Regions from separate parts of the Homo sapiens genome. Here all the other regions are reported to be linked to region 5. Evidence: microRNA targets listed by miRTarBase, many of them from high-throughput screens and not tested one by one. Region 5 holds a microRNA gene; each other region holds the end of a gene's coding sequence. Distances are between the middles of the regions.

The links. The annotated mature microRNA hsa-miR-1257 reads AGUGAAUGAUGGGUUCUGACC and lies in region 5 at 1,893-1,913, opposite strand. An mRNA with a match to its seed (bases 2 to 7 or 8) in the 3' UTR can be bound and repressed. Matches are read on the target gene's strand: a 7mer-m8 pairs with bases 2 to 8, a 7mer-A1 pairs with bases 2 to 7 and ends in A, and an 8mer does both.
Region 1: the mRNA of ATP13A4 is a reported target of hsa-miR-1257. Seed matches in the 3' UTR shown: 7mer-m8 at 2,217-2,223 and 7mer-A1 at 3,200-3,206.
Region 2: miRTarBase lists ZNF584 as a target of hsa-miR-1257. The part of its 3' UTR that is shown has no 7-base or 8-base seed match.
Region 3: miRTarBase lists EZR as a target of hsa-miR-1257. Seed matches in the 3' UTR shown: 7mer-A1 at 1,259-1,265.
Region 4: miRTarBase lists PSMA7 as a target of hsa-miR-1257. Seed matches in the 3' UTR shown: 7mer-A1 at 376-382.

Annotation. Positions count from the first base shown.
Region 1 is chr3:193,398,906-193,402,967 of GRCh38, reverse strand. ATP13A4 (ATPase 13A4) reads left to right here. Exons shown (of 30, transcript NM_032279.4): 30 at 104-4,001. The coding sequence ends at 316. Among named protein-coding and RNA genes, the nearest start is that of ATP13A5, 22 kb to the right of the region's middle.
Region 2 is chr19:58,417,276-58,421,337 of GRCh38, reverse strand. It overlaps ZNF584 (zinc finger protein 584), which reads right to left. Exons shown (of 4, transcript NM_173548.3): 4 at 3,011-4,062. The coding sequence ends at 3,554. It also overlaps a transcript of ZNF324B not described here. Among named protein-coding and RNA genes, the nearest start is that of ZNF584, 11 kb to the right of the region's middle.
Region 3 is chr6:158,763,185-158,767,246 of GRCh38, reverse strand. EZR (ezrin) reads left to right here. Exons shown (of 14, transcript NM_001111077.2): 14 at 169-1,499. The coding sequence ends at 333. It overlaps SYTL3 (synaptotagmin like 3), which reads right to left. Exons shown (of 18, transcript NM_001242394.2): 17 at 3,738-3,943; 18 at 2,376-2,752. The coding sequence ends at 2,643. It overlaps MIR3918 (microRNA 3918), which reads left to right and starts at 2,494; the gene lies at 2,494-2,586.
Region 4 is chr20:62,133,087-62,137,148 of GRCh38, reverse strand. PSMA7 (proteasome 20S subunit alpha 7) reads left to right here. Exons shown (of 7, transcript NM_002792.4): 7 at 200-416. The coding sequence ends at 292. It overlaps LSM14B (LSM family member 14B), which reads right to left. Exons shown (of 9, transcript NM_144703.3): 8 at 3,674-3,859; 9 at 1,775-2,986. The coding sequence ends at 3,688. Among named protein-coding and RNA genes, the nearest start is that of PSMA7, 8.3 kb to the left of the region's middle. RefSeq lists an enhancer at 2,807-3,306.
Region 5 is chr20:61,951,729-61,955,794 of GRCh38, forward strand. It overlaps MIR1257 (microRNA 1257), which reads right to left and starts at 1,934; the gene lies at 1,818-1,934. RefSeq lists a silencer at 372-572 and enhancers at 560-1,132, 1,943-2,442.

The DNA of each region.
Region 1 (4,062 bases), not on the chromosome of region 5:
ATCTAAGCAACCATTGCAGTAGTGACTTATGATGGCCTGTGGAGGGCTGTAGCCTCAAAACACTCAACCCTTGCTTGTAAAAAGTAATTATTTTATTTTGCAGGAGGCTGTTATTGAAAATCGAGCCCTGTGGATGATGATTAAAAGATGTTTCGGCTATCAGTCAAAAAGCCAGTATCGGATATGGCAGAGGGACTTGGCAAATGACCCTAGTTGGCCCCCGCTAAACCAAACCTCCCACTCTGACATGCCGGAGTGTGGCAGAGGAGTGTCTTACAGCAATCCAGTATTTGAGAGCAATGAAGAACAACTCTGAAGGACATGTGATATCCAAGTTGATATTACAGAGAAACAATGACAAAAGGGACCAGTTTCATTGATTTTAAGAAATGAGACTCTTGTAACATCAGCTGGAGTTTTGGGGCTACCTATCAAATCATGGTGACAAACTAAAGTCTGTTTGATAAAATACTGTCTACAGAGAAGAACATTGACCCAGAAGAGTGCTTTCCTCTTGGCTTCTGAAGGTATTAGAGGCATTCAGTGAAGGCAAGAATGGGCCAAGAATTTCTATGGGCCAAGAGACAAGCAGGCTAAAGGGGAAAAATATGTGATCTTTCCTCTTAGGACAGGACAATACTTTCCTTTTTATAAAAATGAGTTGAGGGGAAGTAGTACTGTGTATACTCACGGAGTTGTAATTTTTGAATTTTTACTTCATCGATGGAAAAACTAATGCGTGGGAAACATTACACCAATCTTTACTGTCTGGGTTCCTTTTCTCTGTAGTACTTTTCAGATTTGAGGCTTTTTCTTCTGTTTCTGGCCTTACCCAACATATTGTTAAGGATAAGCTTAGCCTATGCTGCAATAAAAAACAACTCTCAGATATCAGTGCCTTAACACACAAGTGCTTCTTTCGTGATCCAGGTGACACTCTGGAACTGCCATTCTTACAGCAGTGACTGCTTCAACCTGATGGCTCCATCAGCTCGATGCAAGGACTGTGTGTTGACTGTGATGGGGGAAGGAATAGACTGGAGATCACGTGTGGGCTCTTCACTGCCTCACCCCAAAAGTGGCACACATTGCTTTCCCTACTCATATCTCATTAGTCAAGGATTTGGCCAGGGAGCTGGAAAGTGCAGTCTCCTGTGTTTAGGGATGCTTCATGGGCTTATGAGCTGTCACTACACAGGGCCCCATGCTTAGAAGGTCCCCACACTTGGCTTTAACACTCTGCTGTTTCCATCTTAAAATTCTTAATTTTTGAACAGGGGTCCCCATATTTTCATTTTGTACCAGGCCCCACAAATGATAGAGTTGGTCTGGAACGTAGTCCTGGGAAGGAGAGGAAAATAACAGATCAGAAAGCACGAGTGCTGTCCACTACAGCCCACTTTTCCTAACCCCAGTAACTTATCCTATGTTTTAGGAATCTCTCATGTCACATGGCCAACTCCAGAAATTTTCACTCCTCTGCTTTATTATTTTTGAGAAACATTAGTCTCATGCTACAGCATTATATGGCACTATTGATGGGAGTTCTTACACAACTAGTACATTTTTTTTTTAAAGTTTGTGGCTTGAGTTTCCAGAAAACTAAAATTGTCCTTATTTTGTCACTATTACAATTTGGTTATATTTGATTTGTTCAGCACAAGGAAGACTCAGGTTTCTGTTACCTCAGGAGACAACACTGAACTCTAGGAGCACACCTACATATAATATTTTAAGGCAAAAGCAAAATTTGTATTATGAGCATCAAATCCTAGGTGAATGTTCTGATCAGGGGATAAGTGTCCTGGCCCAGGCTGGCTTTGGAACTTATCAATAGCATTTGCAAGCATTCCTTCCCCCTAACTGAGCTCTTGAGCATGGCTGATGGCTCTATGATTGCAGCTGATTCTAGGAACATGGTGTCTCCCAGCCATGAGGGTACCCTGTTACTTCTGGTTTTAAAATAGGGCGTGAAGATATTTTAGTGTTTCAAGACTGCAGAATCACTGTCTTTTTTGGTACAGAAAGAAATGTTTCCTTTTGCAAAGCCAGCCTCAGCAATGATATGGCAGTTCTGAATGTCCTTCTCTAAAAGTGTTTCTCATTTTCCAAAAGTAGAGGGTTGTAGGCAGGGGCAAGCTAGAGATGGTCTGTGACCTAGTCATGAGCAAGATCAGCCTGCACAGTTCATACTTAAATGTGCCCTTTGCTAAGTGCATTCACCTCCACTAACTCACCTGAATGGTACCAATTGTCCCATGACTGAACAAGGAAGGGCTTATCATCTCCACCATACAGATGAGAAAGCTGAGATTCAGTAATGGCAAGAGCAGATCTAGGCCTCAAATACAGATCTTCTGAGCAAACCTTATATTGCTGCCAAATACTTCCAAATTCCAGAGTTCCAGCAGGGCAGGTTGCTTAGTGTGATCTCACAGTCAAGCAAAGAATGGGCAACCCTTTGCTAATACCAGGCCCTCTGTTCAAATGAATGCCAGGCATCCTGCCAGGCCTGGGCTAGAGGTGTATTAAAAACAAAACAAAACAAAACAAAAAAATGATTGTCTGTCTTTCTGAGACTTTGAGTTGCTCTTGCCTTGATCCTAAGTGATTCTATCACTAGCAAAGGCTGGCAGGGAACAGGAAGAAAAGAATCTAGTCCTCCACTAGTCAAGCAGCCATAAAATCTTTGGGAAAAGAGACTCATTTTGAAGACTGTATTCCTGGGATTAACTACATCTTAGAAGCAGTAATTGAAGGAACAGGGAGTGCCCAGCCTGGAAAGAAAACAGTCAGGGGACTGTGAAGGGTTTTCCTGAGAAAGAAGGATCCTACTTGTGCCAGGTGGCATGAGAAGGCAAAATCAGGACAAATGGGTAAAGATCACAGTGGGGATGGCTTCAGGCCATCTGCCCTAACCACTGTCCTAACAGCCAGCACTGATAGCAGTGGAATGTACTCTAGGACATTGGAGGAACAAGTGGCTATTCAAGGGCCAAGTAGAGAAGGAAGTCAAGTATCAGATGAAACTCAATTACCTGCAAGATCTCTTTCAAGCTTGATACACCCAGTGTCTCAGTCTTATGCTGTGATGTGAACCTTTTTTTTTTTTTTTTTTTTTTGAGATGGAGTCTCACTCTGTTGCCCAGGCTAGAGTGCAGTGGCACAATCTCGGCTCACTGCCAGCTCCGCCTCCCGGATTCACACCATTCTCCTGCCTCAGCCTCCCAAGTAGCTGGGACTACAGGTCTGCCACCATGCCCGGCTAATTTTTTGTATTTTTAGTAGAGATGGGGTTTCATCATGTTAGCCAGGGTGGTTTCAATCTCCTGACCTCGTGATCCGCCCGCCTCGGCCTCCCAAAGTGCCGGGATTACAGACATGAGCCACCAGATGTGAACTATTTTCTACTACTACCCACACAGAATACCAGACAGACACTCATGGGAGGATGGGCTCTGGAGGGAGGGCTCCCAGCCTTGTCAGATCCGATTGTGTGGACATATAGACTCAATTGCCCTGTACCTTGAAAGGGGACCCCTAATGGAGATAAGATCCTAGGAAAGAGGGGCAGAGTAGGGGTCCTGATTGTCAGATTGAAGCTGGGGTAATACTTCTGATTTGTGAATTTTCTTAAAGAGAGGTGTTAAAAAACTTTGCATGAAAGAGCGTGGGAGAGTGCCCTAAACTTGAGGGCGGAGCAACCTGTTATCAATACACTTTCTTGAGCAGAGTCTGAAGGAGAAACGAACACAGTCACATAGTCCAAATCATTTGAGACGGTGCCCTGTATGTTCATCTCAAGGCATCTAGCTCTTACCCACAGAGAACCGTGACTCTGGGCTTCCCTCACTAAATATGTCTGTGACATCTGTATCCTTATGTGCTTATGGAAATGTTCACATACACACCTGCAGATGTGATGACTGAAAAAAACGATTATTTATTCAGAGCTTTGTATTTAGTTTATGCTATAATAAATTCAGTTGTTATAAAAATCAGTCTCTCTCTCTGCGGTGGAGTCTTTCATTCTGTCTAATGGTGTGGTTTACTCCAGTAATG
Region 2 (4,062 bases), not on the chromosome of region 5:
GTGATCAATATCCTATCCAGCAGCCAGTCTGGGGAAGTGGGGGAGCAATGGAAAATGAAGATAATTCCTCCTTCAAGGGATTTTTGTGAAGCTGAGGTAGGAGGCAGATGGGACTCTACTCCAGAGCAGGTTGAAGACGCTGAAATCAGGAAAAGGCGCTGAAAGCACTTCCCCGTAAGACAGGCCCGCCATTGCCATGGCAGTTTGCCACTGCCTTGGCAACACTCGGAAGTTACTGCCCCTTAGCATGGCAACAGCTGGAAGTTACCACCCATTTTCTAGCCCATTCTGAATAACATTTAGCATCTCGTATGTCTTTAAAAGTGGGTATATAGGCTGGGTGCGGTGGCTCACGCCGGTAATCCCAGCACTTTGAAAGGCTGAGGTGGGCAGATCACAAGGTCAGGAGTTCGAGACCAGCCTGGCCAGCATGGTGAAACCCCGTCTCTACTAAAAATACAAATTAGCCGGGCATGCTGGCCGATGCCTATAATCCCAGCTACTCGGGAGACTGAGGTATGAGAATCACTTGACCCTGGGAGGCGGAGGTTGCAGTGTGCTGAGATCACACCACTGCACTCCAGCCTGGACAACAGAGTGACTCCATCTCAAAAAAAATAAAATAAAATAAAAGTGGGTATAAGCCAGGAACAGTGTCACACCAACCCCAGCACATTGGGAGTCTGAGGCTGGAAGATCACTTGAGCCCAAGAGTTCAAGATCAGCCTGGGCACATGGCAAAACCTTGTCTCTTAAAAAAAAAAAAAATTTAAAGAGATGGGGTCTTGCCATGTTGCCCAGGCTGGTCTATGAACTTCTCGGCTCAAGCGATCCTCCCACCTCAGTATCCCAGAGTGCTGGCATTACAGGCATGAGCCGCCAATCCTGACCCCCTACTCCCAAATTTTTTTTTTTTTTTGAGACAGAGTCTTGCTTTGTCACCCAGGCTGGAGAATAGTGGTGAGATCTTGGCTCACTGCAACCTCTGCCTCCCCAGTTCAAGCAATTCTCCTGCCTCAGCCTCCCAAGTAGCTGGGACTACAGGCGCCCGTCACCATGCCGGGCTAATTTTTTTGTATTTTTAGTAGAGACGGGGTTTCACCATGTTAGCCAGAATGGTCTCGATCTCCTGACCTCATGATCCACCTGCCTCGGCCTCCCAAAGTGCTGGGATTACAGGCGTGAGCCACTGCACCCAGCCAATTTTTTTGTATTTTTAGTAGAGGTGGAGTTTCACCATGTTGGCCAGGCTGGTTTCAAACTCCTGACCTAAAGTGATCTGCCCACCTTGGCCTCCCAAAGTGCTAGGATTACATGCATCGACCACCACGCCCAGCCTAAAACGATTTTTTCTTTAATTAGCTGAGTGTGGTGGTGTGTAACTGTAGTCGCTGCTACTCAGGAGGCTGAGGTAGAAGGATCACTTGAATCCCTGGAGTCAAGGGTGCAGTGAGCCGTGATCATACCACTACACTCCAGGCTGCGTGACACAGCAAGACTCTGAAAAGGTCCCATAAACCGCAAGATCTGGATCCATACTTTGGTTACCCTACGTGTCTCTCTTGAGCCCCAGAGGGAAAGCCCTGACACCATGACAGCAAAAACTTGACAACTGCAAAGGCCACAGCATCCAGACACCAGGAGTACTGGCTGGGTCACAAAAGGCACATCCCAGGACTATAGAATCTTTCAGTCTCAGGATAATGGCCATGAGAGGTGAACAGCCCAGAGAGGATATGAGAATCCAGAAAGTCTGTAGATTATTTGCTGACAGTGACCTTGACACAAATAACAGGTCTGCAATTGCTGAGAAGTTCTGGTGCCCTCACCCCAGGAAACCTCAGTTGCTGGAACATTTGTGGATGCCTCTTTAGAACTGGCTGAAATCCTCTTGTTTATCAGACACTTCACTCCATACTACTTCACTCAATATTTCTATGCCCACTTACTCTACTCAAATTACTCTACCCAACAGGCCCCTATAGGTCTTAGAGTCAGTCTATAACTTACCTCCATGTTCCAGATTTTGGAGAATATGACTTTTGAGCTGAATCTGGAAACAGCTCCTTCTGACCAATGCTGGAAGTTCTGGAACATTCCCTGGGAACAAGGAACCCAACTTTTTATGTCCATAAACATATAGAAGATCTCTCACCAACTATTCCCTTCCGCAAGGTGAGCTCTGGACCCACAAAAAAGCCTGACATCCAGGCTACAAGTCTTTCCCTGGAGGACTCAGGGGCCAATACAAATTAGGCCAACCTTGACTAGAGGTATTTTCTGTCATCCTGCCATCCCCACTGAGGCAGAAAAAACTCAAGAGACCACCTCCACAAAAGCCATTCCCTCAACTTACGGTGATAGTGCCGGATTCTATTCTCAATCTCTCCACACACAGGGATCAGAACCTCAATATTAAAAGAGACTTGGCAGGGCACAGTGGCTCACAACTATAATACCAGCACTTTGGAAGGCTGAGGCAAGAGGACTGCTTGAGGCAAAGAGTTCATGACCAGCCTGGGCAATGTAGCAAGATCCTGTCTCTATACAAATTTTTAAAATTAGTCAGATGTGGTGCCACACAAGTACAATCCTAGCTATTCAATACGCTGAAGCAGGAGGATCACTTGAGTCCAGTAGTTCAAGTCTGCAATGAGCTAGCTTCACACTACTGCACTCCAGCCTGGGCAAGACTGTGAGACCCTGTCTCTAAAAAAACTAGGCCAGGCACAGTGGCTCCCAGCACTTTGGGAGGCCAAGGCAGGAGGATAGCTTGAGGCTCAGAGTTCGAGACCAGCTTGGGCAATATAGCAAGACCCTGTCCACAAATGAAAAAAAAAAATTAGCCAGGTGTGATGGCGCACACCTGTAGTGCCAGCTACTCAGGAGGCTGAAGCAGGAAGATCCCTTGAGACCAGCAGTTCAAGGCTGTGGTGAGCTATGATGGCACCACTGCATTCCAGCCTGGGCAACAGAATAAGACCATCTCAAAAAAAAAATAAAAAAAAAATTTTAAGCGGCTTAAACAATAAAGCCTTTATTACCACATAGTCCAGAGCAGTATGAGACAGTCCATGCTAGGGCATGACAAATACCATGTGTAATGTCAACCATTTCCATGAAAATGGTAAACCTTCCCAGGAAGCCCCCAGCAGATACCAGCTCAGCTCCTCCGGCCAGAGGTGGGTCATGTCCACAGCTAAACCAGTCAAGGGTAGGGAATGAGGCCTGTTTTGGGCTCCACTATTAACGATTCTCTACTGTTTAGAGCAAGGAGCACAAGGTCTGCTGTCCCACTTGCTGTAGGGACCTTATGGGGTGGATAGAGGTGGATGGCGGTGGATAAACTCAGTGATGTGACACTGCCAACAGCCCCAGGCAAGTCAGAGTGCAATGTGGCTCCCGAAAGCGTCCCACACACCAGGCACACACGGGAACTCTCCCTGGGGTGGGTGTTGGGATGTGCAAGGTTTAGCTTCTTTCGGATGGCACTCTCACGGCCACTCTCCTTAACCTCCTTTCTGGAATAAGACCTTTCCTGATGAACACGGTGCTAGCAGCTAACGACCTTCCCATGTGCCCTGTCCTCCTGACGCCTTTCTGGAGTATGGACTTTCTTGTGCTGAAGGAGGGTGGAACTATGTTTGAAGGCCTTCCCACACTCTGTACATTCATAAGACCTCTCTTCAGTGTGGAACTGCTGGTGCCGATTGCGGTAGGATCTGGTAGTGAAGGTTTTCCCACACAGGCTACATTCATAGGGCCGTTCCCCAGTGTGGACTTTCCAGTGCTGATAGAGGCCTGAACGGGTCACGTAGCCTTTCCCACATTGCTTGCATTCAAAAGGCCTTTCTCCAGTGTGAACTCTCTGGTGAAGAATGAAGCTATTATTGTATTTAAAGAACTTCCCACATTCTGTACACTCATAGGGCCTTTCTCCAATGTGCACTTTCCGGTGCCGAATGAGGGTAGACAGAACACTGAAGGTTTTACCACATTTGCTGCACTCGTAAGGCCTTTCTCCAGTGTGAATCCTCTGGTGTAGAACAAGTGCGTCTTTGC
Region 3 (4,062 bases), not on the chromosome of region 5:
GCTCTGTCTCCAGGGAGCCTGCCTCGCTTTTGGAGCAGACAGGCTTGGGGAGGGCAGTGATGTGAGCCAGCCCCACCCAGCACCCCTCTTGCCCTTCCTGTTTTCCTAGGGGACGGGCCGGGCCATATGGGGAGGAAGGGACTAGACCAATGCTGCTTAATGTTACAGACGCTGAGCAGCGAGCTGTCCCAGGCCCGAGATGAGAATAAGAGGACCCACAATGACATCATCCACAACGAGAACATGAGGCAAGGCCGGGACAAGTACAAGACGCTGCGGCAGATCCGGCAGGGCAACACCAAGCAGCGCATCGACGAGTTCGAGGCCCTGTAACAGCCAGGCCAGGACCAAGGGCAGAGGGGTGCTCATAGCGGGCGCTGCCAGCCCCGCCACGCTTGTGTCTTTAGTGCTCCAAGTCTAGGAACTCCCTCAGATCCCAGTTCCTTTAGAAAGCAGTTACCCAACAGAAACATTCTGGGCTGGGAACCAGGGAGGCGCCCTGGTTTGTTTTCCCCAGTTGTAATAGTGCCAAGCAGGCCTGATTCTCGCGATTATTCTCGAATCACCTCCTGTGTTGTGCTGGGAGCAGGACTGATTGAATTACGGAAAATGCCTGTAAAGTCTGAGTAAGAAACTTCATGCTGGCCTGTGTGATACAAGAGTCAGCATCATTAAAGGAAACGTGGCAGGACTTCCATCTGTGCCATACTTGTTCTGTATTCGAAATGAGCTCAAATTGATTTTTTAATTTCTATGAAGGATCCATCTTTGTATATTTACATGCTTAGAGGGGTGAAAATTATTTTGGAAATTGAGTCTGAAGCACTCTCGCACACACAGTGATTCCCTCCTCCCGTCACTCCACGCAGCTGGCAGAGAGCACAGTGATCACCAGCGTGAGTGGTGGAGGAGGACACTTGGATTTTTTTTTTTGTTTTTTTTTTTTTTGCTTAACAGTTTTAGAATACATTGTACTTATACACCTTATTAATGATCAGCTATATACTATTTATATACAAGTGATAATACAGATTTGTAACATTAGTTTTAAAAAGGGAAAGTTTTGTTCTGTATATTTTGTTACCTTTTACAGAATAAAAGAATTACATATGAAAAACCCTCTAAACCATGGCACTTGATGTGATGTGGCAGGAGGGCAGTGGTGGAGCTGGACCTGCCTGCTGCAGTCACGTGTAAACAGGATTATTATTAGTGTTTTATGCATGTAATGGACTATGCACACTTTTAATTTTGTCAGATTCACACATGCCACTATGAGCTTTCAGACTCCAGCTGTGAAGAGACTCTGTTTGCTTGTGTTTGTTTGTTTGCAGTCTCTCTCTGCCATGGCCTTGGCAGGCTGCTGGAAGGCAGCTTGTGGAGGCCGTTGGTTCCGCCCACTCATTCCTTCTCGTGCACTGCTTTCTCCTTCACAGCTAAGATGCCATGTGCAGGTGGATTCCATGCCGCAGACATGAAATAAAAGCTTTGCAAAGGCACGAAGCAGCACGGGTGTGTGCTTGTGTGTGGGGTGGGAGGGCTACCGCCGACTCGTCTGGGCTCTATGCTGTCCTCTGGCCAGGTTTCGTGAGGGGCCGTGGTGTCCCTGGGGGTACACTGGTAAGTTGGAGCTGACCAACCCAAGACATGGTGCTCCATGGGTCACCTAACCTCCTCGAGATGGTTTCCACAGGAGAGAAAGACTGCTCCAACACTCATCAGGCTCCTCTAAAATGCTCCTCATAGCCGGGCACAGTGGCTCACACCTGTAATCCCAGCACTTTGGGAGGCCGAGGTGGTCGGATCACGAGGTCAGGAGATCGAGACCATCCTGGCCAACATGGTGAAACCCCATCTTTACTAAAAATACGAAAATTAGCCTGGTGTGGTGGTGCATACCTATAATCCCAGCTACTTGGGAGGCTGGGGCAGGAGAATTGCTAGAACCCGGGAGGCGGAGCTTGCAGCAAGCCAAGATCGTGCCACTGCACTCCAGCCTGGTGACGGGGAGACTCCGTCTCAAAAAATAAAGTGCTTCTCACAGCGAAGCTGTGACTCCCCCCCCCGCCTTGAGACAGGGTCTTACTTTGGCCCAGGCTGGAGCACAGTTGCATGATCGGGGCTTACTGCAGCCTCAACCTCCTGGGCTCAATCCTCCCGGTTCAGCCTCCTGAGTAACTGGGACTACAGGTGTGTACCACCACACCTGGATAATTTTTTGGTTTTTTTGTAGACAGGGTATCTATGTTGCCTGGGCTGATCTCACACTTCTGAGCTCAAGCCATCCACTGCAGCCTCCCAAAGTTGCTGGGATTACAGGGGGGAGTTACCATGCCCACCAGCCGGCCTTTTACCTCATTTGATAAGCACTGGAGGACATGGGTAACAACGTTTATTAAAATCTGGCCATTTTCTACATCTCAAAGAGGAGATAACCCACCAGAGGCTTAGGTAACATAATTGTGTTTAACGTAAATATACACAGATACCAATAGGCGGTTAAGCCATGGGACAGGGCCGCAGATGGAGACTGCTCAAGGTCAAAGGGGTCTCCAGCTGGGACCCTGCACCTGGTTCGTAGCCCCTCTGCAGACGCACAGTGCCTCACGCCTGCTGCAACCTGGAACCTTGAGGCCTTCATGTCAGTGCAGGACAAGAGTCATGTCTGTCCATAGATTGGGGCTGGAAAGGACTTTCTGCCACTGGAGCTTCGATAGTGAGCATGCATCCCCGCCAACAGCTGTGTCTCCCTCTGTAAGAGAGGAAGACAATTTAGCCATGGTCGGGGAGGGCACCACTTCATCCCCTCTCATCCCTTTAAAAATGATGACCAGCCAGAAGTTTTTCACCTCAAGTCCACATTAAAAGGCCAACCACTGATGACAGACGCCGCCACCACCACTCCCACCCCAACAAAGCTGGTGTTGAGACTGGGATTCACGCAGGCATCCTCTGCTCTGCGAGGCTCTAACAGCCTGGAGTTCTGTAGTTTGAAAGTGAGGCGAGGACTCTGGTTTGGTGGGCTGGGTCTTCACCAAGGGAGTGGATAGTTGCACACCAGCATGGCTAGCTGGGTGGGGCCGTCTCAGACTGGGGGCTGGGCTTGCCCATGGGAAGGGATTCTTAGAGGAAGACAGTATGCTTTGGACAAAATATCTTTGAAAAGCAATGGAGCAGTGAAGCTTATTTCTCTTCAGTCACTGGTTCTCAGTTGGAGGTCCTTGGAGATGTGTGCAGGTGTTTTTGGTTGTCATCATGTCAGGGACACTGCTGGCAGCCAGAAGCAGTGCCAGGCACAGAACCTCACAGCAGAGGGCTGTCCACCTACCATGCCGGCGGTGCCCTGCCGAGCGGCTCTGGACAGCACTGCTGTTCTGACCACTTTTGATGAAGTACTTTCTGAATTGCCATTTGTTTAAGAAGATATTTTCATTTAAGAAAATAATCCTTTTATGATTGACGCCAGAAACAAAAGCAAATACTGTACCTAGCCCGTTTGGAGGCCTATAATTTTTGTTTCTTTAGCAGATCTAAATCTGATTTAAATTGTCAAAATACTTGGCTGTATTATGGCTCAGCTGTAGAGTAAAAACTAGACTTAGGCATTTCCAATTAAGGCAGGCTAGGCAATTTCAAAACCAGTTAAGTCACTGCCCTGGTGGAAGCATTTTCTTTGCACGGTACCCATTAGGATAATCACAAAGTATAAACGTTTGGGCTCAATGTCTCAGACTTACTTGAACCAAGTCTGGTTCCTCCAAGCAAGCGGTCGTTCATTCCAAAGAGGGCCTGATCCCAGACAGTTAACTCCAAGCTTGACTGCCTCAGCTGAGCTGGGGTTACGCCACTGAAGACAAATGAGTGTTTCCACTGGGGGCAAGCCTGCTTCCTCAGGACTGGCGACTTCAGTCTCAGTTTTTGTTGGTCTGGCAGAGTGAGACAGCTGAAGAGGGAACACAAACCCTGCAATCATTGCCATCCACACGGCCTTCTCTCCTGAGGCCTGTGCGTCAGTGCAGACGGGAAGCACTAAGAAAAGTGCCAAGTCCACAACATCCACAC
Region 4 (4,062 bases), 180 kb from region 5:
CCAGTCAGATCTGCTGCTGCTGCTACTGCTGCTTAATACTTGTCTAGGTCAGGCCAGCATCCTCTTGTTTTTCTTGAGGTTCCTCTCCAAAGAGGCTGTATGAGCAGCAGTGCCAAAGCCTGGCCGCCCTCCCCAGAAGAGGGCGCTGGTTCCTTGGCACCTTGTGTGGCTTAGGTAACCATGAAGTTTTTTTCTATAGATTTTAAATCCTGAAGAAATTGAGAAGTATGTTGCTGAAATTGAAAAAGAAAAAGAAGAAAACGAAAAGAAGAAACAAAAGAAAGCATCATGATGAATAAAATGTCTTTGCTTGTAATTTTTAAATTCATATCAATCATGGATGAGTCTCGATGTGTAGGCCTTTCCATTCCATTTATTCACACTGAGTGTCCTACAATAAACTTCCGTATTTTTAACCTGTTTTTTTTTTTAAGAGAATGTGTATCTTTAGGTGCAATCACAGCAGTCCTCTCATCTCTCACCCTTCTTTTTCAACCCTGAGCCACCGTAATTGAGCTTTCCTTTCTGTTCCTTGTGGCTAAGACAGTAAGCCAGTGTGAGACACAGGTTCCTCCCTTGGGAAGTCAGAGCTGCTGCCCTGGGTCCTGCAGAGAAACCTGGCCTTCAGCAGACCTGTTTCTCTGTTGTAGACACAGAATGACTTCCGTTTGCTTTTAGACCTTCATTCTAGTCCCCTAATGAATGTATAATGTCAAGGACACAAACACAAGTAGCCCTGGGTTCATTCTGTAGAGCAGCAGCTTTGTTCAAAGCAGCTTTGCATGTCTGACTTTCATAGACCACATCTTGACGTCTGCCCCCTATGTTGAAGACTGGTTCTGGCTATTCTCTGCCCTTTCCTGTGTTTTGACTTCTAGTCCCACAGTTTAAGGCTTTTGGGTCCTCTGGTCCTTGGTTTTGGGCATGTATCTTCTAAAAAGGAGTAAAGGGGCCCAGATACATTTTGAGCTCAGCGTAAAATGTACAGTTGTCAAAACAATGAACATTTTAACAGCAAGGTCAGCTGGCACACGATAACCTGACTACCTTGCGATGCTCTGGGAGGCAATACCTGTTTCACCAAGTTCTCTAGCTGGGTGAGGACTGTGGCCACCAGTATCTGGCACACGTAACATTTATTTTTCTGCTGGTCAAGGATACCCATTACCCCCACCCAAGAAATGGGAGGGCCCCCCACTGGCAGTTCTGCTGTGGAGCCTGATGGCCACAGGCAGGTAATGAAAGGAGAACTCATGCAGCTGGTGTGTCTCCTCGTCCTCTCTGAGGGCCACTTTTAAGGTCACCTGGAAACCCATTAGACTAAAATGGGATGCTCTGAGCCTAGAACCAGCCATGTCTTTGTTTTTCTGCGTGGGTCCAGGGTGCAGCTTGCTCATGGCTGTGTAACATGCTCTACGGTGCCTGAGAACCTGAACGCTCCTGAGCTGGGGAGCTTGGAGGCAGCAGGAAGGTGGCAAAGGGGCCACTGCTTATGATACAGGTGTTATCTGTGAGCTGGGTTTTTAAAAGAACTTTGTATCCAGTTTCTGAGAGCAGAGCCATTCATCCCAGAAGGGTGGCCCACAGGGAGAACCCGGGTCTGCTGGCCGCACTTCACCCGACCAATTGGGTCAGCCACCTCGTTCCATCACCTGATGGGGCCCAAGTCTCCCCAAATTCCACCAGCCTAAGTGTGTGCTCCAGACCTGGACATGATGCAGAGGTGACTTGGGCAGAAGAGTCAACAGGATTCTTAGAGCATCAGAAAAGAAAATTTTAAAGGTTTGCATGTTTATTTATAATTACAATTTACATTACTCCAACAGAGGAGCCCCCTTGCTATGTTCTAATTCTTAGCCATTAAGTCCTACAAAAATAAACCCAAGCTTTTACAGTAACTTAATCAATACAGAACTAAAGCCTTTATAGCTATTAGAGGGGTTTAGTTACCAAGGTGCTTATTTTCGACAAAATGCCCTGTCACTCAGAGGACGCATGCGTATACTAAAGTTCTGACCCATCGACTCATGCAACAAATGTAGACCCCACCCTCCCTCCACCCACTGTTACAACACAAACACAAAACAACGATGTACAACAGAGGGGAAATATGCTCTTGGTCAACTGACCTTGCAGAAAAGACTGGCTTGTTTCCAAGTGGATGAGAACGCCAGTGTGTGGCCAGAGTCCAGCAATGACTGACCGGCCCAGGTCAGAGGCTGGCAGGGACCACAGAAGGGCCAAGGCGCTGCCGGGGCTCATCCCAGGCTCCAACCCCAACCTGGAAGCTTGTGGACACCAGGCTCTGTGCAGCAGCTCCGTGGCTAGCGTCCAGGGCCCCTGGCCACTACTCCCAAATGCTTCTAGTCCACCCACCCCTGGCCAGCCCCAACCTTGACATCACTGTGGATGCCATCAGGGTGGTCTGGTTCACTTATACAACATGATCCATGGGAAAACCCCTTCCGTGCCCTCCACCCACCCACCCCTGCCCCCCACGCCACCCTGTGCTGGCCCTGCCTGACTCCTGAGACCCCACCCTTGGCAGTGGGGTGCCAGGCCAACAGCACCAGGGGCCAGCTGGGTTACAGAGATGTACTTGGCTGCCACCTCTGCCAACAGATTTGGTTCCACTTTTAAAAGTCAAAGCTTGTCATTAAAAAAAAAAAAAAAAGTCACAAAGTAAGGATTCAGCTTTCACTATAGAAACCTTTTTGCAAAATACCAAAACCTTAGAATTAGGCTATGCGCAACTAAAAAGGAAACACAGATAAAGAGACCTCAAAGAGGTTACCCATGAATACTTCCCCAAAACAAGTGGTTCTAACTCAGACCATGTCCAAGTTCAGTTAAGTCCAAAACACAAGTAGCAGTATGGGTCTCTTCCAAACTCCGTAAACAAAGTGACCACCTCTCCCTGTAAGTGCAGCGTTTTCCTCGCGTCCTGACACACACAGCGTCAGTTATGCGCCACTTCAGTAGGAGCCTGCAAGAGATGACAGGAAGTCAAGCATCTGCTGGGATAAGCTAGCACTGTTGCCCCTGCTGGCGAGCAGGAGCCACTCAGCCTCCCTCCTGCCCCCAGAGTCAGACTGGCTACCCCCATTCTTCTCACAACCCACTCTGAGAATCCTACTTGTACAATACACTGGGGACAGGGACGCAGCTAGTGGCAGGAGGGCTAGTCTTTCCAGGGCCCACCTGGCTGTCCCGAGGCGCTGGGTGGGGTTGGCACCAGGCACCCCATGTGGGACGCTCCGCCCAAACCCTAAGGTGCCCACAAATCCACTGGGACCTGGTTAAAAATGAAGCCTCTGATTCACTTAGGGCCGGGTTGGGCCAAGACACTGGCTTTGGAGCAAGGTCTCACTTGCTGGCTTCACCTGGGTGGTGAGCCCCCAGCCCACGCGACTCCCGCACCACCTCACCTCCCATACCTGCAATCTCACTTGGAGGATGCTGGGGCCTGGATCCTACCCCCACAGATGCAGGTTGAAGTTGGCCAAGAGCCTCCCGGGTGACTCATAGGGTCGAGGCCCTCGGTTTGGCTTTGACACCTCTGGGCCTCTCTTCTTCCTGGGAAACCGAGCCTGCTCCCCACCTTCCTAAGCTCTCCAGGTGTGCCTGACCCTACACCCTCCCACCAAAGCGTCCAGAAGGTTCATCCACTCACCTTTGGCTGCACCCTCACACCCTGCCAGTCCCGGCCCTGTGGGAAGTGGGGTTGCGACGGGTGGTCCCATTGCCCCTGCCTCCTCGGAATCCGCCCCGAGAACTGCGGCCACGAAGAAACCTCCCTGACACCCCAAAGGTCTCTGTGTTGAGCTTCCTCTCTTCGGCCCACGTCGTCCGCCTGGAGCTAAACCACAGAGGAAATGCTGATTGTAGCAGGCACTGACTCCCAGGCTTCTGGCCAGGCCTCGTCCTCAGAGCGGCCCAGGGAAGGAGGGACAGACTCACCAGGGCCACTACAGGGAAGGGGCGGCCCCGTCAGCTCTGGAGCCCAGCTCCGGCACTGCAGGTGCTCCCTGCCACGTTTCCAACCAGGACTGTCTCCACAGT
Region 5 (4,066 bases):
GTGAGGGTCAGGTGATCTGCGAAGCACCCCCCTCCCAGCTTCAAGTGGGGAGCTTACAGGCCTAGAGGTCAGGGCCTGGCAAACGACCTGAAAAATCCAGCTTGAGGCCCTTTCCAGGGAGCCCCAGAGGCCTTCTCTTGGGTCATTTCCCAGGATGGGGGTCGCTGTCACTCCTCTGTCCCAGGAGGATTCAGAGAGGTCAGTTCACAGGCCTATGCTGGGCAGAGCCACTCATCCACGGCACTGGCCACTCAGCCAGGTATTGACAGACCCACCCGCAGGGCAGACAAAAGAGGCATGGCCCAGCCAGCTGCGGGACCCTGCACCCCCCACTCACTCACACATGTGCACATGCACACACATGCACACGTGCAAACACACACACACGCACACACACACAGCCCTCCTCGGCTCACAGGGGGCTGCAGGACGCTGTCCAAGGTACTGACCTCCCTGCTGCTGGGCCCCTCGCTGCTGAGCCAGGCAGGGGAAGTCAGCTGGGCCAACTGGGAGGGTCGGGCAGGGACAGCACCTGAAATCCCTGCTCAGCCCCCTGTGCCGTTCCTGCCCCTGAGACCACGGCCAGCCACCCAAGGGCTACCCCTCAGCAGCCTGAGGACACAGCGCCGGCTCTTCATCTCAAGCACACGGAGGTGCAAGAGGGAGGGTCTGCGGCCTCGGCAGAGACAGCCGGATGCACTGAGACCCTGGCCTGGGGCAGGCAGGGGCTCCCTCAGGGGGCTCAGAAGGGGTCAATGCTGCAGACCACAGGCCGGCCCAGCCTCAGGCACGGTCCACCTGGCACAGCACACTTCACAGTGTTGAATATACTGTTGTATTTGTTTCCTGAGGTAACAAAGTCCCACAAACTCGGTGGCTTAAAAGAAAGACATTTATGCTCTCCCAGTCCTGGAGGCCAAAAGTCTGAGATCAGTATCCCTGGGCCGAAATCAAGGGGTCGGCAAGGCTGAGCTCCCTCCGGGGAATTAGGGGACGAGCCCTCACTGCCTCTTCCAGCCTCCAGTTCCTTGGCTCACGCCCACATCACTCCCGTCTCCACCTCCATCTTCACTTCATCTTAGTGTAACCTCCCTCCATCTCCCTCTTACATATGGACACTTCCCATTGGATTTCGGGCCTATGACTAGTCCTGAAAGATCTCATCTTGAGACCTTCAACTTGATCATATCTGCAGAGACTCTATTTCCAAATAAGGTCACCTTCACGGGCTGTTTTTCTTTTAGGGCGGTGGGGGTGGGGGGGGGGGGATTTTTCAGCTGACCACAATTGTCAACATTAAAAAATCAAGATATTGTAGGGGTCCCACCTAGATATTGAGGAGGTGGACAACAGGAGGACTGGGTCTCTCCTTCATCCCTCAGCTGCCAGGATGGAGGGTTTGGGGGGGGTCATTTCTTACACAGCTCCCAGTAGGAGATGCTGTGTAGCCTTGGGAGTGTCACTTAGCTACCTCTGGGCTTCCTTGTCTGTTGCTGGGACCGTGTATCAGCTAGTTGCTGAGTAACAAACACAAACACGATCTCAGCAGCACAGAGTCAGCATTTGGTTGGCTGGTCCAGGCCAGGCCGCTGGGGCAGCTGAGCTCTGCCCCCCACTCCCTCATCCTCCCCCTGACCAGCAGGCTAGCCACCCTCACTGATGGCAGCAACACAGGACAGCAGCCTGGTCACCGCAGCTCTCAGTTCAGAGCACCACATGCCCCGTGAACATCCCCTCAGTCAAAGCAAGTCACATGGCTGAACCCACAGTCAAGGGGCAGGGAATTAGACTCCACCCCCTTAGTGGGGGAGCTTCAGAGGCACAGGGCAAGCGTGGTTGGCAGGGGTGAAGGATGGGGCCAGTGATGCCAGGGGCCCACAGGGGTGCATGGGGGTCAGAACCCATCATTCACTCCCCAAGCACAAGCCCAGGGCCAGCTGGCCCACAGGTCCCCCTGGTGCCCAGCATCCCCCCGTCCCCCTCCCATGGGGTGGGGCTCGCATCCAATGCCTGGTTCCAAGTGTCCTCCTCATCTTACCTGCATGGTGACCATCCAGGACGCTCTCCCTGAGCCCGCTGCTTACTGAGTGCCACGGAGGCCTGCAGGGGGAGTGGGCACACACAGGAGAGACGCATGATTTGCAATCTCGTTAATGAGCCGTAGCACAATCACAGACCTGCCCTGACAAGGAGCTGCACTCGTGGTAACATAAAACTGTCAGCCAGCTGGGCGCGGTGGTTCACGCCTGTAATCCCAGTACTTTGGGAGGCTGAGGCGGGAGGATCACCCGAGGTCGGGAGTTTGAGACTGGCCTGGCCATCGTGGCGAAACCCCGTCTCTACTAAAAATACAAAAATCAGCCAGGTGGTGGTGCATGCCTGTAATACCAGGTACTCAGGAGGCTGAGGCAGGAGAATTGCTTGAACCCAGGAGGCAGAGTTTGCAGCAAGTCAAGATCATGCCACTGCACTCCAGCCTGGTGACAGAGCGAGACTCTGTCTCAAAAAAAACAAATTTTTTTAATAAAAAAAAAACCTGTCAGCCAACGAAGCTCATTACAAGCTGCTCCTCAGACTTCCTGTCAGCTGGGACTGCATCCGCCTGTTCAGCCCTTCCAGGCCTGGAGCTGGAGCCCAGGAGGGAGGCCAAGGGGTCCCACTGCAGCTGGGGTGCTGACTGTTAGCTACCAGCCCTTCCGTGGGCCTGTCAGGTTCAGTCTCGGATGCTGTGGGGCCCTGGGACCCCTCATGGGAAGCTGACTTGGACCGTTCAAGAGCCCTATCTAGCCCTCAGCAGGACAAGATCCTCTCAGCAACATCCCCAACACACACTCAACCAGACAGCCTGCAAAGAGCCAGTTCTGTATTTGGACAGCTCGGCTCCCCATGGTACCCTTGTACTCCATGGTAAACCAAAACAAGCTTCTTTGTAACTTCCACCTACTAAAACCATTCCATTACCACCAACTAAGACGGATTCTCCACCTGCCCATCCCAAACCTACCCCCAGGTGTCCCGTGTCTCCTTGTCTCCTGCATCTGCTGCCCACGTGCAGGCTGAGTGTGAAATAACAAAGGACATCCTCCTGGTGGCGCGGGGCAGAGAGCCAACTCACAGAGGGGAGGACATCCACGCTGGCCACGAGCCAGCTCCCCACAATGACCAGCCCAGCCACCCCGATGGTGGGGGAGAATGGGTCCTCCCTCTGCGATCTGAGAGTTCCACTCAGTAGCCCTCAAACCCTACTCCACACACACCTGTTCGCCCTGAATCTAATGTGCTCACTTTGAGCTATCTTCCTGTATGCCTTTTCCCAGGCTGATACCCTCTTTTCTTTGCTTTTGCAAACTAGCTGAATTTCTTAGCCAGAGCCATCAGGCAAGAGAAAGAAATAAAGGACATTCAAATTGGAAAAGAGGAATTCAAACTACCTGTTTGCCAATGGTATGATCTTATACCTAGAAAGCCCTAAAGACTCCTCCAAAAGACTCCTAGATTCGATAAATGAATTCAGTAAAGCCTCGGTCACAACATCAATGTAGCACTGCTATACACCAACGATGACCAAGCTGAGAATCAAATCAAGAACTCAATCCCTTTTACAATAGCTGCAAAAAAATAAAATACCTAGGAATATATGTACCCAAGGGGGTGAAAGATCTCTACAAGGAGAACTACAAACACTGCTGAAGGAAATCACAGATGACACAAATGGAAATATATCCCATGCTCACTTATTGGAAGAATCAATATTGTGAAAATGACCAAACTGCCCAAAGCAATCTACAGATTCAGTGCAATTCCTATCAAAATACCAACATTCCTTTTTCACAGAATTAGAAAAACAATGCTAAAATTCATTTGGAACCAAAAAAGAGCCTCAATAGGCAAAGCAATCTTAAGCAAAAAGAACAAATCTGGAGGCATCACATTACCTGACTTCCAACTATACTACAGGGCTATAGTTACCAAACAGCATGATACTGGTGCAAAAGTAGATAACAGACCAATAGAACAGAATAGAGAATGAAGAAATAAAGCCAAATCCTTACGACCAACTGATCTT